Homo sapiens: one gene and its partner. The protein of the gene in region 1 interacts with the protein of each later gene in a biochemical or structural test. Each region holds a gene or a part of one and is shown on either strand. Other genes may lie near its edges.

Region 1 (7,301 bases):
CCAGTCTATCGTTGTTGGACATTTGGGTTGGTTCCAAGTCTTTGCTATTGTGAATAGTGCCGCAATAAACATACGTGTGCATGTGTCTTTATAGCAGCATGATTTATAATCCTTTGGGTATATACCCAGTGATGGGATGGCTGGGTCAAATGGTATTTCTAGTTCTAGATCCCTGAGGAATCACGTAATCTTTTAAACTCAATCATGCTAGTTGTAGCAATTGGTAAATTACACCAGTTACGTTACTATTAGGATTATTAGAGTGGCTTTAACAGATCTGGGTAGTCATTCTGTTTTGTTACTTTTTCCCTGATAGTACACAATGTTGTCAGGACAGGTTCCCTTCCAATCTCATGACCGAAGTTTGACGTGTACCAGCGCGGTGGAAATCATGAAGAAAATTAAAAAGGGAGATTTCTCCTTTGAAGGAGAAGCCTGGAAGAATGTATCCCAAGAGGCTAAAGATTTGATCCAAGGTAAGAATCTAATGAAATTTTACATTTTATATGATGTGTAGTGATTGAAGTAGAATCATGGCCATTACACATACATTCATATGTTAATTACTCGAGGAATCCATGTGTATTCTAAAAGGCTTCCAGGCTACTCTCTTCAGCCTTGTTTTCTTATCAGAACATTCTCTTTAGTAATGGTATCCACATTTCTAACATGAGCTAGCACTTGACTTCCACTGGCATCTCAGTCAAGCACATCTAAAACAAACCAATACTTTTTGACTGTCCTTCCCCCCAAACACGCTCCTCCTCCTGTCTTTCCTCCTGTCAACAGTGGCACTGCTAAGAAGCCAGATCACCAAAACAGAAACCTAGGCGTCCTCCTGGATACCTGCACCTGCCTGCCTTCTGCAGCCAGTCACAGAGTTCTACACATTCAGCAGCGCTCCTAGCAGTCCGGTCCCTTCCTTCCCATTCACCTGCCGTTGCCTTTGTTCTCATCACCATTTCTCTCCCCAAATCCTGCAGCATCCTTTCACCTTGCCTCACTTCCTCTGACTTAAGCTGTTCATCATCTGTCAATAGAGGGACTTTTCTAGAATCCCTATGTGATTATGCCTCTTTTCTGCCAAAAATCCTTTGGAGACTCTCTGTTTGCTTCAGGTCAGACTCCTTAGCCTAGCATTTAACATTCAAAGCCCCTCATGACCTGGTCCTGTCTGCCTTTGTTTCCTCCTCACCCCAGCTCTGCCGTTGCAGGATATTTGAATTCCTCAGATATGCTGAGCTTTCAGATCCCTCCGTGTCTTTACATGCTCTTAATCCTCTTCCATAGCCACTTCTCCTTATCCTACAGGATTCATCTCCTAGAAGCCTTCCAGGATGCCCTCACTCCCTAGGCTACACTCTCCCTCAGGCCTGCTAACACACTGTGCCTGTGTATCTTGCTATCGCACTTATCCCTGATGTTATAATAGCTGGGGTTTTGCCTGTGTGTCTTCTGATATTAATAGCTCCTCTCTGCATCTCCATCTCCATATCTCTAGTGCCTTACTGCACTCCCTGACCTATAGAAGATGGCCAGTAAATGTTTGGTATATGGATGAAGTAGATCTGTGTGCTTTTTGCTCATTTGGAGCTTACGAAGTCACCAGTGGGAATCTTTGTTTTGGATGTTTATTTTCTCCTGATTGAAAAGCCACTTCGCCTGGAGCTTCCTAGAAATAGGCTACTGTGACTTTATCATTAGACTCCAGCATTCACAAAAGAATTTAAATGAATAGGAAAATCTAATTATCTTTGTAGGAGGTTAAAGCTATATAGAAACCATTATGTCATGTGAACATAGCTGAGATTTATTTCTGAGTTTGTTTTTAAACCATGTTTAAAATGACAAATCATAAAATAAAAATATCTATTCCCAAAGGACTTCTCACAGTAGATCCAAACAAAAGGCTTAAAATGTCTGGCTTGAGGTACAATGAATGGCTACAAGATGGAAGTCAGCTGTCCTCCAATCCTCTGATGACTCCGGATATTCTAGGATCTTCCGGAGCTGCCGTGCATACCTGTGTGAAAGCAACCTTCCACGTAAGGCCCTGTGCTCTGTACATGTTGGGCGGTTTGAGTAGGAATCATAATCAAATGTTCTTACTCTGTAGCCTCAGATACGTTTTCTTTGTTTCACATTTAAAATAATATGTGTCCTTTTACTTTTAGGTATGTTTTTATAAATTGCTTCATGGTTATAAACACTTTATAACAATAAGTGCACAGGGGACCAGAGTCACTGCTAACCCACAAAATACATATTTAATTTTTAGAATGACCTTATGAGATGAGATAATAGAACTTTTTCCTCTCAAATAGACTGACTAAATTTCTTTAAAAACCATAATAAACATTAGGAACTAAGGCATATTTGAAAGTCCATTCATTTTACAACCATTTAGTACATCACACATTCTTAAAACTGGGAGGGATATGAAGTAAGTTCATTGGTATTAAGTATAGATTGTATGTTTGAAAGACTGAGACTATTTGGTAGAAACTGTGGATTATGCACATTTGTGCCAAGCAGATGCAAATATATTAAGATAATTCATGTGAAGTATAGTATAAGATGAGTTAGGGAAACAGAAAGTCACCTTCAAAGGGATTATTTTGAGAAAGGAGAAGGTATAGGGATAGTGCTTCTTCAGCAGCAGAAATGGATTTAAAAAGTAATAAACTAGGAAATGTTGAGATGGTAAAGAGATTAACTGCAAGAATTTCTATCAGATGATCCAAATCTTCTCAGTGACATAGGTTGCAAGGTGACAACTACAAGGTGTAACTGCAGCATTATCCAAGCCTAGGCTAAGGAGAGTGAAGACAGGCTGCAGGAGGAGGAAGCCAGGGCAAAGCTGTAGAGCTGTGCTTCTCCATGCGTGTAAGTGTCCAGTATATATCCAAATGACATTGAATGGGACTGAAGAGCAAAGACTCAGAATGCGTCAAGTCTGCTTGCATTGGGACTTTGTGTTCAGAATTTTAAATCTTAGACACAGAACCAGTAAAAGCAATGGGGATAGTTTAGATTACTGATGGTCTTCAGGAATTTCCAGTCAATTGTTTCGTATTAGGATGTAGTACTAACTTCTTCAAAAGATTTATTAGAATTGTGACTCTCAGACCGCCTAGCTAGTTTGATATAAACAGAGCCCTCAGAATTTTTTTCCCATGAACTTCTCCACCCTGCCAATAGACTTAGATATAAAGGTTTTAAGAGCTTTGTTCCCTTAAAACAACTTGGGGCTGCAGTTGCCAATGGAAAGTTGTCTTCTGCTGTAAGTCATAACTGCTAGGAAAGCTTCAGTACTTTTACCTTCACAGGGGTTCCCTTTTTTTCCCCCGCCAGGCCTTTAACAAATACAAGAGAGAGGGGTTTTGCCTTCAGAATGTTGATAAGGCCCCTTTGGCTAAGAGAAGAAAAATGAAAAAGACTAGCACCAGTACCGAGACGCGCAGCAGTTCCAGTGAGAGTTCCCATTCTTCTTCCTCTCATTCTCACGGTAAAACTACACCCACCAAGACACTGCAGCCCAGCAATCCTGCCGACAGCAATAACCCGGAGACCCTCTTCCAGTTCTCGGACTCAGTAGCTTAGGCATGGTAGGAGTGTATCAGTGATCCATTGCACCTTTATTCCCTCAGCATATGCCTGAGGCGATCTTTTATGCTTTTAAAAATGTTTCCCGTTGGTCTCATTGGAATCTGCCTCCTAATGATTTTTTTCAGGAAAACCTGTTTGGTTATCCTCATTCAAAAGCACTGGACAGAGAATGTTACTGTGAATAGAGCACATATTACTCTTTTTAGCAACCTAGCATGATGCCAACAAGACTATTCTTGAAAGAGCAAAGGTTCCTGTAAATTTAATTAGGGCTAGATTTGAGCTGCTTGTAAGTCACAGGTTTTCCAGATGTCTGCCAACAAGAAATGACTCATACTGTGATGATACCTTTTGCTTTGCCTTGTGGACAATGTGGGTTTTTGAAATTTGCACCCTTCAAACAATGATTTATCAGAGAAAGGGGTCTGTTTTCAAAAAAGATTCTGTAATGAATTTTATGTGTGGCATATACTTATTTCTTGAGAGAAGATTTTAACTTATTGTTTTTATTTTATGGTTACATATGATGATAACCTGCTATTATTAAACTTTTTCTAAAAAGTGAAAAAAAAAAAAAAAGATATAAGAACTCAAGGTCCCATACTCTGTATTCGGGATCCATCTGAGATGCATGCTAAGCTATGTGTATGTTTTTAATTTTGCACTGCTCTTTCCTGGCAATTTGTTTTAATGGTTATTGCAGAATATTAAGGTACATGTCTCTCTGTTTTAAGTAATATTGCACTTTATAAAAAAGTATGAATAAAGCAAACTATTTTATAAAGTGCACTGTTTAAAGCATTTGCACTGTATTTTTGCCATTTATTTTCATTTTCTACTTTAAATTTGTCCTCACATTCCTCTTCTACTTTGTATGCAACAAGTAGAATGGGGCATGTTGTGTCATGTAGTCAGCCACTTATGCACCAATGTGAGGAAAACCTAAAGGGAAATTAAACTAAACACTGTGCTTCATATTTGTACACTGTGTTGTACTACAGTGAGGAATTTCCTCCTGTAGTCATATATTATGTACATAATATTTTAGAATCATACCTATGACTTGTTTGGAAATTTTTCTGTTAAATTTTAAATCCAGAAAGCATATTTTATAAACTTATGCAGAGCACTTTTATTGCTCAAAAGTTCTGAATTCATACAGAAAACAAGTACTATGTGATGAAAACATTTCATTAAAAGATTGCTGCATTTAAAAATACAATTAATTCGTTCCCTATGCAAAAAAAAAAAAAAAAAAAAAAGAAGTGATAGGGTTTGTGTGTTATATTTTCTTTTAAAGCCATCATGTGAAATGTCAGGACTGAGAAAAGTGATTTTTTTGCTTTGTTTACAGGAATCATGCTTAAAGAGATAATGCCCAACATGTTTATTTTATAGTTTTTGTTAATGATAACCTTTTGAGCATTAGTTTGGAATTTGGACATGATATTTATTTATTCCTTTCTTGAGGTTATAGCAGCATTAATTTCAACCAGTTATGAATACTAAAAATATTGCACTCTATGTAATAGTAGTATATTTATTACTAAATCAATGTATATATTAATAGCACAGGCAAAAAATGGCAAATATTAAAATATTTTCAAAATATTATATTATCCTGTTCACATTTTGTCCACAGTGGTTATTGGGAATAATATTTTACACTTTTTGCTGGCCCAAATGGCTACATAATATTGAGTTAATGAAAGTTTTCTACTCCCAGCTTTCAGTTATTCCTAGTAATTATGGGAAATTTTGTGTGAATTATTACCAAACTATTGCTAATTCACAAAATGTGATTCCATCAGGCACAGATCTCTAGTAATCAAGAAAATGACCATATTTATAATTATATTGGACATATTGGGAACATATTTGGCTCTTCAAGCCATTTTTTAAACTGTGCATCCTGGTAGAAAATACTAGTTATAAAGTACAAACTAAAGGGACTATGTTGCTAATAGAAAATGATCCAGAAAAATGGTCAGACAGTATACAGATTGATGATGTGATTGATTTCATTGTGAATATTGGAAATTAATGGGTTTCATTTTCATTTATTTCCCTTGCCTCTTCTTGAGGAGGATTCGACAGGCGATGAAATGGGTAAAAAGGCAGTCAGACTAACAGGAAGAAGGAAAGATAGGCTAGCTGTCAACTGATGAGCCTGCCTGAATAATCTCAAATGGGCTTTTGAAAAGACCTTAACAAACACTGTTGCACTCTTGTCAAATATCTTTATCTACACCCTACTTATAAGTACCAAAAAGACAGCATTTGATGCCAAGTTTGAAGCAGTTAGGTCCTATGCAGGCTGTGTATTAACATACAGTGAATTGCACTTTAAAATTCAGAAAGCTTTCATTTGGTCACATCAAAAATAAACACTACAAAATATATAAAAAGTTAAATGATAGGACTCTTTTTTTGGTATTAAGAGTAAAATAGAAGAAGATCTAAGAAATACAAATACTTACATTATTTCTCCTTATGACATTAACTTTGGGACTAGAGCCACACCACCCCCTCCCTTCTTCACTTACTGATTGTATTGCATATAATTTTCATGCCAACATAAATCCTGATTCATATATTTTGTAACTGTATATGACAAATTGAGAGGCAAGAATAAGAAAAGGAAGATAATAGAGGAAAGATGTTAAGAAAGACCAGTTTCTTCTAATTACTCTGCCAGATCGTGTGTCTGAAAGAGGTTAATTAGCATTTTGAAATTGATTGGCTGAGTGTGGTGGCTCAGGCCTGTAATCCTTGTGCTTTGGGAGTATAAGACTGGAGAATCACTTGAAACCAGGAGTTAGAGACCAACCTGGGCAACATAGTGAGACACTGTCTCTCCAAAAATAAAAATAAAAATTAGCTGAGCATGGTGGCTCATGGGAGGCCAACATGTGGAGGATCGCTTGAGCCCAGGAGTTCGAGGCTGCAGTGAGCTGTGATCACACCACTGCACTCCAGCCTGGGCAACAGAGCGAGACCCTGTCTTAAGAAAAAAAGAAATTCATTAATTCTTCCAAACCTTTATAAAGTAAGAAACCACTGAATTACTAGAATAGAAAGTCAGTCTCCTGAGTTAATTTCCACATTGTTGTCTGTCTTGGAGTCACAGGTTCATTACCCAAGAAAACTGCCTTTTAATTTTTTTAGATTACTGTTGATTTCTTAAGTATGTAAATGACTAACTTTTAAATATAAGGTAAGTTATTTTAAAGAAATCTACTAAGATAGAAGTCACTTTTTTTAAAGTAAGGAAATTCCTTTTGTATCTCAGTTTATGTTCTCAAATACACTACTTTATAAAAGTATACAATTGACTGGATACTTATTCACCTTGCCCCCATTTCAAGCGCCTGTTATTGTCATATTTATTAAAAACAGGGTACCTCATAATGGTGAAAATTTCTAAATTATTGGGTCTATATGTGCCTTAGACTGCCTGATTACTTTGGCTGTTCTCCCAGTGACTGATAATAATAGCATGATTTGAGTGTTCATGTGAGAATACATCTAATATTCCTTAAGATCTAAGTAAATAAGTTAAATTCTGATATGCCACTTATGTCAAAATAATTGTTATATAGATGAATTATTACTGTAACATCATGAAGTATCTTAAAATTATATGACTTTTGGCCTCTCAAATGTCTTACATGATAATACCCCAATTTCCA
Region 2 (5,239 bases), on another chromosome or scaffold:
TTTGCGCTTTTCCTTTTTTCTGCAAGATACAGAGAATTGCTGAATCTTTGTTTTATTTCTGTTGTTTGTATTTTATTTTTAAATAATAATACACAAAAAGGGGCTTTTCCTGTTGCATTATTCTATGGTCTGCCATGGACTGTGCACTTTATTTGAGGGTGGGTGGGAGTAATCTAAACATTTATTCTGTGTAACAGGAAGCTAATGGGTGAATGGGCAGAGGGATTTGGGGATTACTTTTTACTTAGGCTTGGGATGGGGTCCTACAAGTTTTGAGTATGATGAAACTATATCATGTCTGTTTGATTTCATAACAACATAAGATAATGTTTATTTTATCGGGGTATCTATGGTACAGTTAATTTCACGTTGTGTAAATATCCACTTGGAGACTATTTGCCTTGGGCATTTTCCCCTGTCATTTATGAGTCTCTGCAGGTGTACAAAAAAACCCCAATCTACTGTAAATGGCAGTTTAATTGTTAGAAATGACTGTTTTTGCACCACTTGTAAAAAGGTATTTAGCGATTGCATTTGCTGTTTGTTGTTTTATTTTGCTTTATATATGACTTGCAGAGGATAACCATAAAATGGGTAATTCTCTCTGAAGTTGAATAATCACCATGACTGTAAATGAGGGGCACAATTTTGGACTCTGGCGCCAAACTGAGTCATAGGCCAGTAGCATTACGTGTATCTGGTGCCACCTTGCTGTTTAGATACAAATCATACCGTCTTTTAAATATTTTGAAGCCCATTTCAGTTAAATAATGACATGTCATGGTCCTTTGGAATCTTCATTTAAATGTTAAATCTGGAATCAAAATGAAGCAAAAAATATCTGTCTCCTTTTCACTTTCTTCAGTACATAAATACATTATTTAATCAATAAGAATTAACTGTACTAAATCATGTATTATGCTGTTCTAGTTACAGCAAACACTCTTTAAGAAAAATATCCAATACACTAAATAGGTACTATAGTAATTTTTAGACATGGTACCCATTGATATGCATTTAAACCTTTTACTGCTGTGTTATGTTGATAACATATATAAATATTAGATAATGCTAATGCTTCTGCTGCTGTCTTTTCTGTAATATTCTCTTTCATGCTGAATTTACTATGACCATTTATAAGCAGTGCAGTTAACTACAGATAGCATTTCAGGACAAAATAGATGACTCAAACCATTTATTGCTTAAAAAATAGCTTACGCCATGCTATGCTATAAGCAGCTTTTATGCACATTGACAAATGAAGAGTAAGCTTCAGCTTGCTAAAGGAAACTGTGGAACCTTTTGTAACTTTTGGTGATATGGAAAATTATTTACAAACCGTCAAAGAATATGAGGAAGTTGCTGTATGACATAGTGCTGGCACTGATATTATCCATCATCTCTTTTTGGACACTTCTGTAAATGTGATTGGATTGTTTGAAAGAAGATTTAAAGTTTCAAAGTTTTTTGTTCTGTTTTTGCTTTGCATTTGGAGAAAATATTGAAAGCAGGGTATGTTGTTTCATTCACCTTGAAAAAACCATGAGTAAATGGGGATATAGAATCTCTGAATAGCTCGCTAAAAGATTCAAGCAAGGGACATGAATTTTGTTCCATCTATCAATAATATCCAGAAGAACAACTTTTTTAAAGAGTCTATAGCAAAAAGCAAAAAAAAAAAAAAATTCTAAACACAAAGTCAAAATAAACCTATTGTAAAAGCATTTCGTGATGAGCATGAAAAAGATTGTTTAAAGATGATCCCCCCAGCTACCCATTTTCCAAAACTACACAGATCACAGCTCATTTCTCTAAGTGGAGCAGTTATCAAGAAACCCAAACACCAAAATTGCTACTCTTCACATTTAATCCTACAAAAAGTACTCCAATTTCAAAATATGTATGTAACCTGCGATTTCAATGATTGTTGTTCATATACATCATGTATTATTTTGGCCCATTTTGGGCCTAAAAAAGAAAACTATGCCTTAAAAATCAGAACCTTTTCTCCCCACTATGCTTATGTGGCCATCTACAGCACTTAGAATAAAAACAGATGTTAAAATATTCAGTGAAAGTTTTATTGGAAAAAGGAATTGAGATATATAATTGAGATTTGGTGAAATTGAAGGAGAAAATTTAAGTGAGTCTTTAAAATATATTCTGAATGAAAACTGTATTGAGGATTCATTTTTGTTCCTTTTTTTTCTTTTTCTCTTTTCTCCTTTTTCTTCTTTTTAATAGTCTAGTTTTAGTCAGTCAGTGAGGAAGAATTGGGCCATGCTAACGTTATCACAAGAGAACAATGGCAGAAATGGTATTAGTTATATAATATTTAAGGACAAACTATATGTTTTGCTGTTTTAACGTAGTGACTCACTGAACTAAATACATAATTGACCAACATTAAGTGTATTTCCAATACAGAAGGGTTGAAAATATTACATTATAAACTCTTTTGAAAAATGTATCTAAAATTTTTTAAGTTCTGTTTTGATTCCACTTTTTGGTTGAGTTTTTATGTTTTTGTTTTCAGGTAGATTAATAAATCTGGCAGCTGATTTCTGCAAGATTCTTGTGTTTTGAATTTCTCATTGAATTGGCTACTCAAACATAGAAATCATTTGTTAATGATGTAATGTCTTCTCTCAGCTTTTATCTTCACTGCTGTTTGCTGTCTCTTGATGATGACATGTTAATACCCAATAGATTAATTGCAACAAACACTTATACTCAAATAACTAAGTAAAAATAATTTTTCTTGTTATGTCCATGAAAAGTGCTTCAGAATAAAAATCCACAAGACTGACAGTGCAGAACATTTTTCTCAAATCATGGGCGGATCTTGGAGGTCTAGTTTCCCGTAGATGCTGTAACCAATTACCACAACTTCAGTAATTTACACAAATTTATCTTATAGTTCTGGAGGCAGAAGTTCAAAAGAAGCCTTAAGAGACTAAAACCAAGATGTCCTTAGGTCTGGTTCCTTCTGGAGGCTCCAGGGGAGATTCTTCCAGCTTTCACTTCTAGAGTCTGCTGACATTCCTTGGCTCCTGGCTACATCACTTCAATCTCTGCTTCCATGGTCACATACTCTTCTACTATAGTCAAATTTCCTTCCTGCCTCTTATAAGGATGCTTGTGATTACATTTAGGGGATGCTCAGATAATCCAGGACAATCTCTCCATCTCAAGATCCTTAACTTAATGACGTGTGCCAAGTCCCTTTGGCTAGATAATTATTCATAGGTCCCAGGGATTAGGACATGGATGTAAGGGGTGAGGGCAGGGCTGTTATTCAGAACACCGCACGGAGGAGGAAGACTGTGTAGCAAAGACTCTAATTGATTTACTCAGGAACAGTGGAGTTCTGCTGAGGGATCTAGGATTTGAAAGTACTAGAGTTTGCTTTTATTTACCACTGAGATATTTTCCCCTTATTCTGCATAAATAATTTTGAAAACTTTCTATATTAAATTTCAACTATTCCACTAAAATGTCTGGTAATCACATCAAGCCTTTAGATTATTCAAATCCTTCCCCAGCCCCCAGGAAAACACTAAGTCATGAAACAGAAAAACAGAAGGTATGATAATAATAGTAATAACAGTTAAATCAGTGGTCTAATCCAGATTTTATTTTTTAATACATTTCTTTTGGTGTTAATATGGGTTACTATGTGATCTTATCATTTGCTAGTGATTATTACTTATTAGGTAAGAACAATGTGTAAAATATGTCTATTACTCAAAAGAACAATTGCAAAATGAGTCAACTTATCTTTATATAACCAGGAAAGAAATATATTGCCAGAAGCTACAGAATTTTGCCAGATGATAGGGATTTCTAAAATGAGCCACTTTGTCTATCATGCAGCCTTTTCAGAGCTTGTAATGAGAAAACATTACAGAGGAGAAGGTCATTTGGATGTTTGTTACTTGGAATCCTAGAAAACAAAAACTAAAATTTAAAAATAAGAAGTGAGTAAGCTATTTTCCATTTGCGATTTGGTATGGAGAAGAGAGGAAATAGAATTATTAAAAAAATACAAATTGGGTAAAAGTGATGGTGGAAAAAATATAAAGAAGGCAAATGTACATATTAAGCAATTCTACTAAGAATTGGAAAAATCAAGTTTCAAAAAGATGGTAATAGTTGGGCATGATACTAGAAAATTTCACCCAGTTTATTCAGAGCTCAACTAGTACTTTTAGGACTTCTTTTTTTATATACATGAGACTCACTTTGACATACTTAAAAAAAAAACAGTTTATGGAAAGTACAGTTTAAGAGGAGAATTTGATTAGACTAAGTGGATATCTTTATAGAAATATTAATGATTTCAGAATTTTCAGTTACAAGTGTATATACCGTGGCTATTGTTTATGGATTCATATGTAAGGTAGGGTCTTTTTTGCATATAGACTCCAGTATTAGTTACTTTCATTCTAAAATTATATTTATGCTTCTATGGGGAAGAAAATTTTTAATTCACTTGGTTGTATTAAAATTATACTTACGGTTTGAGAAAACATGCTATGAAAATCATGATTATAGCAAATTAAATATGCTCAAAATTTAAATCTAAAATAAAAGCCCAGAAACTGAAAATATTGGACTGTCGTGATCACTCTGAAAGGTAGCACATCTAAAACTGATAAACGTCATCTAAATTTTTGACTGTCTTCTAATCATCGTGTCATTTTTAATAGTTTATGACCACAGCACTCAAGTAATGTGTTTGCACTACTTTGCCATATATTATTCTTTTAGATAATTTAGATACCAGGACACCTGATAAATCCTTTTTGAGTTCTACGTTCTAATCTCTGTAAATATCTTGTTTCACATAAATCCTTCAATAAATGTATCATGGAGAAATTTGGGGAAGGGAACTAACTAAATTATTTCAGTGACTCCCACATGCCAGACAGCACAGATATGTGAATTATGTTACTGCCTCCAAATTGCTTGGTTTTGTCTGGTGAGAAACTGAAGCTAATGGCAAAACCAGTATGTCTTGGTGTCAAGATGTCGTGGTCACAGGCAAATCATGAACCCTACCTTTTGGGGAACTTGGACCTAGCTACTTTTCTGATTTAATTTCTAATGACAAAAATATCTATAATAATAACAGATTCTGCTGAAACACGGTGTTATTTAATTTTTTTTCTTTTTTGAATATTCCTTGTAGAAAAATCTAAAAAGAAATCAAGCACTATTTAAACAACAGCAACAA

The links.
Region 2: of the proteins of RPS6KA5 (region 1) and ETV1, one has a biochemical effect on the other in vitro, tested with the Homo sapiens proteins (one study listed by BioGRID).

What each region holds. Positions count from the first base shown.
Region 1 is NC_000014.9:90,868,376-90,875,676, reverse strand, and holds part of RPS6KA5 (ribosomal protein S6 kinase alpha-5), read left to right. Parts: intron 1-316; coding exon 317-476; intron 477-1,881; coding exon 1,882-2,045; intron 2,046-3,354; coding exon 3,355-3,603; 3' UTR 3,604-7,301. UniProt on the Homo sapiens protein: Serine/threonine-protein kinase that is required for the mitogen or stress-induced phosphorylation of the transcription factors CREB1 and ATF1 and for the regulation of the transcription factors RELA, STAT3 and ETV1/ER81, and that contributes to gene activation by histone phosphorylation and functions in the regulation of inflammatory genes.
Region 2 is NC_000007.14:13,890,601-13,895,839, reverse strand, and holds the end of ETV1 (ETS translocation variant 1), read left to right. Parts: 3' UTR 1-4,611; downstream 4,612-5,239. UniProt on the Homo sapiens protein: Transcriptional activator that binds to DNA sequences containing the consensus pentanucleotide 5'-CGGA[AT]-3'. Required for olfactory dopaminergic neuron differentiation; may directly activate expression of tyrosine hydroxylase (TH).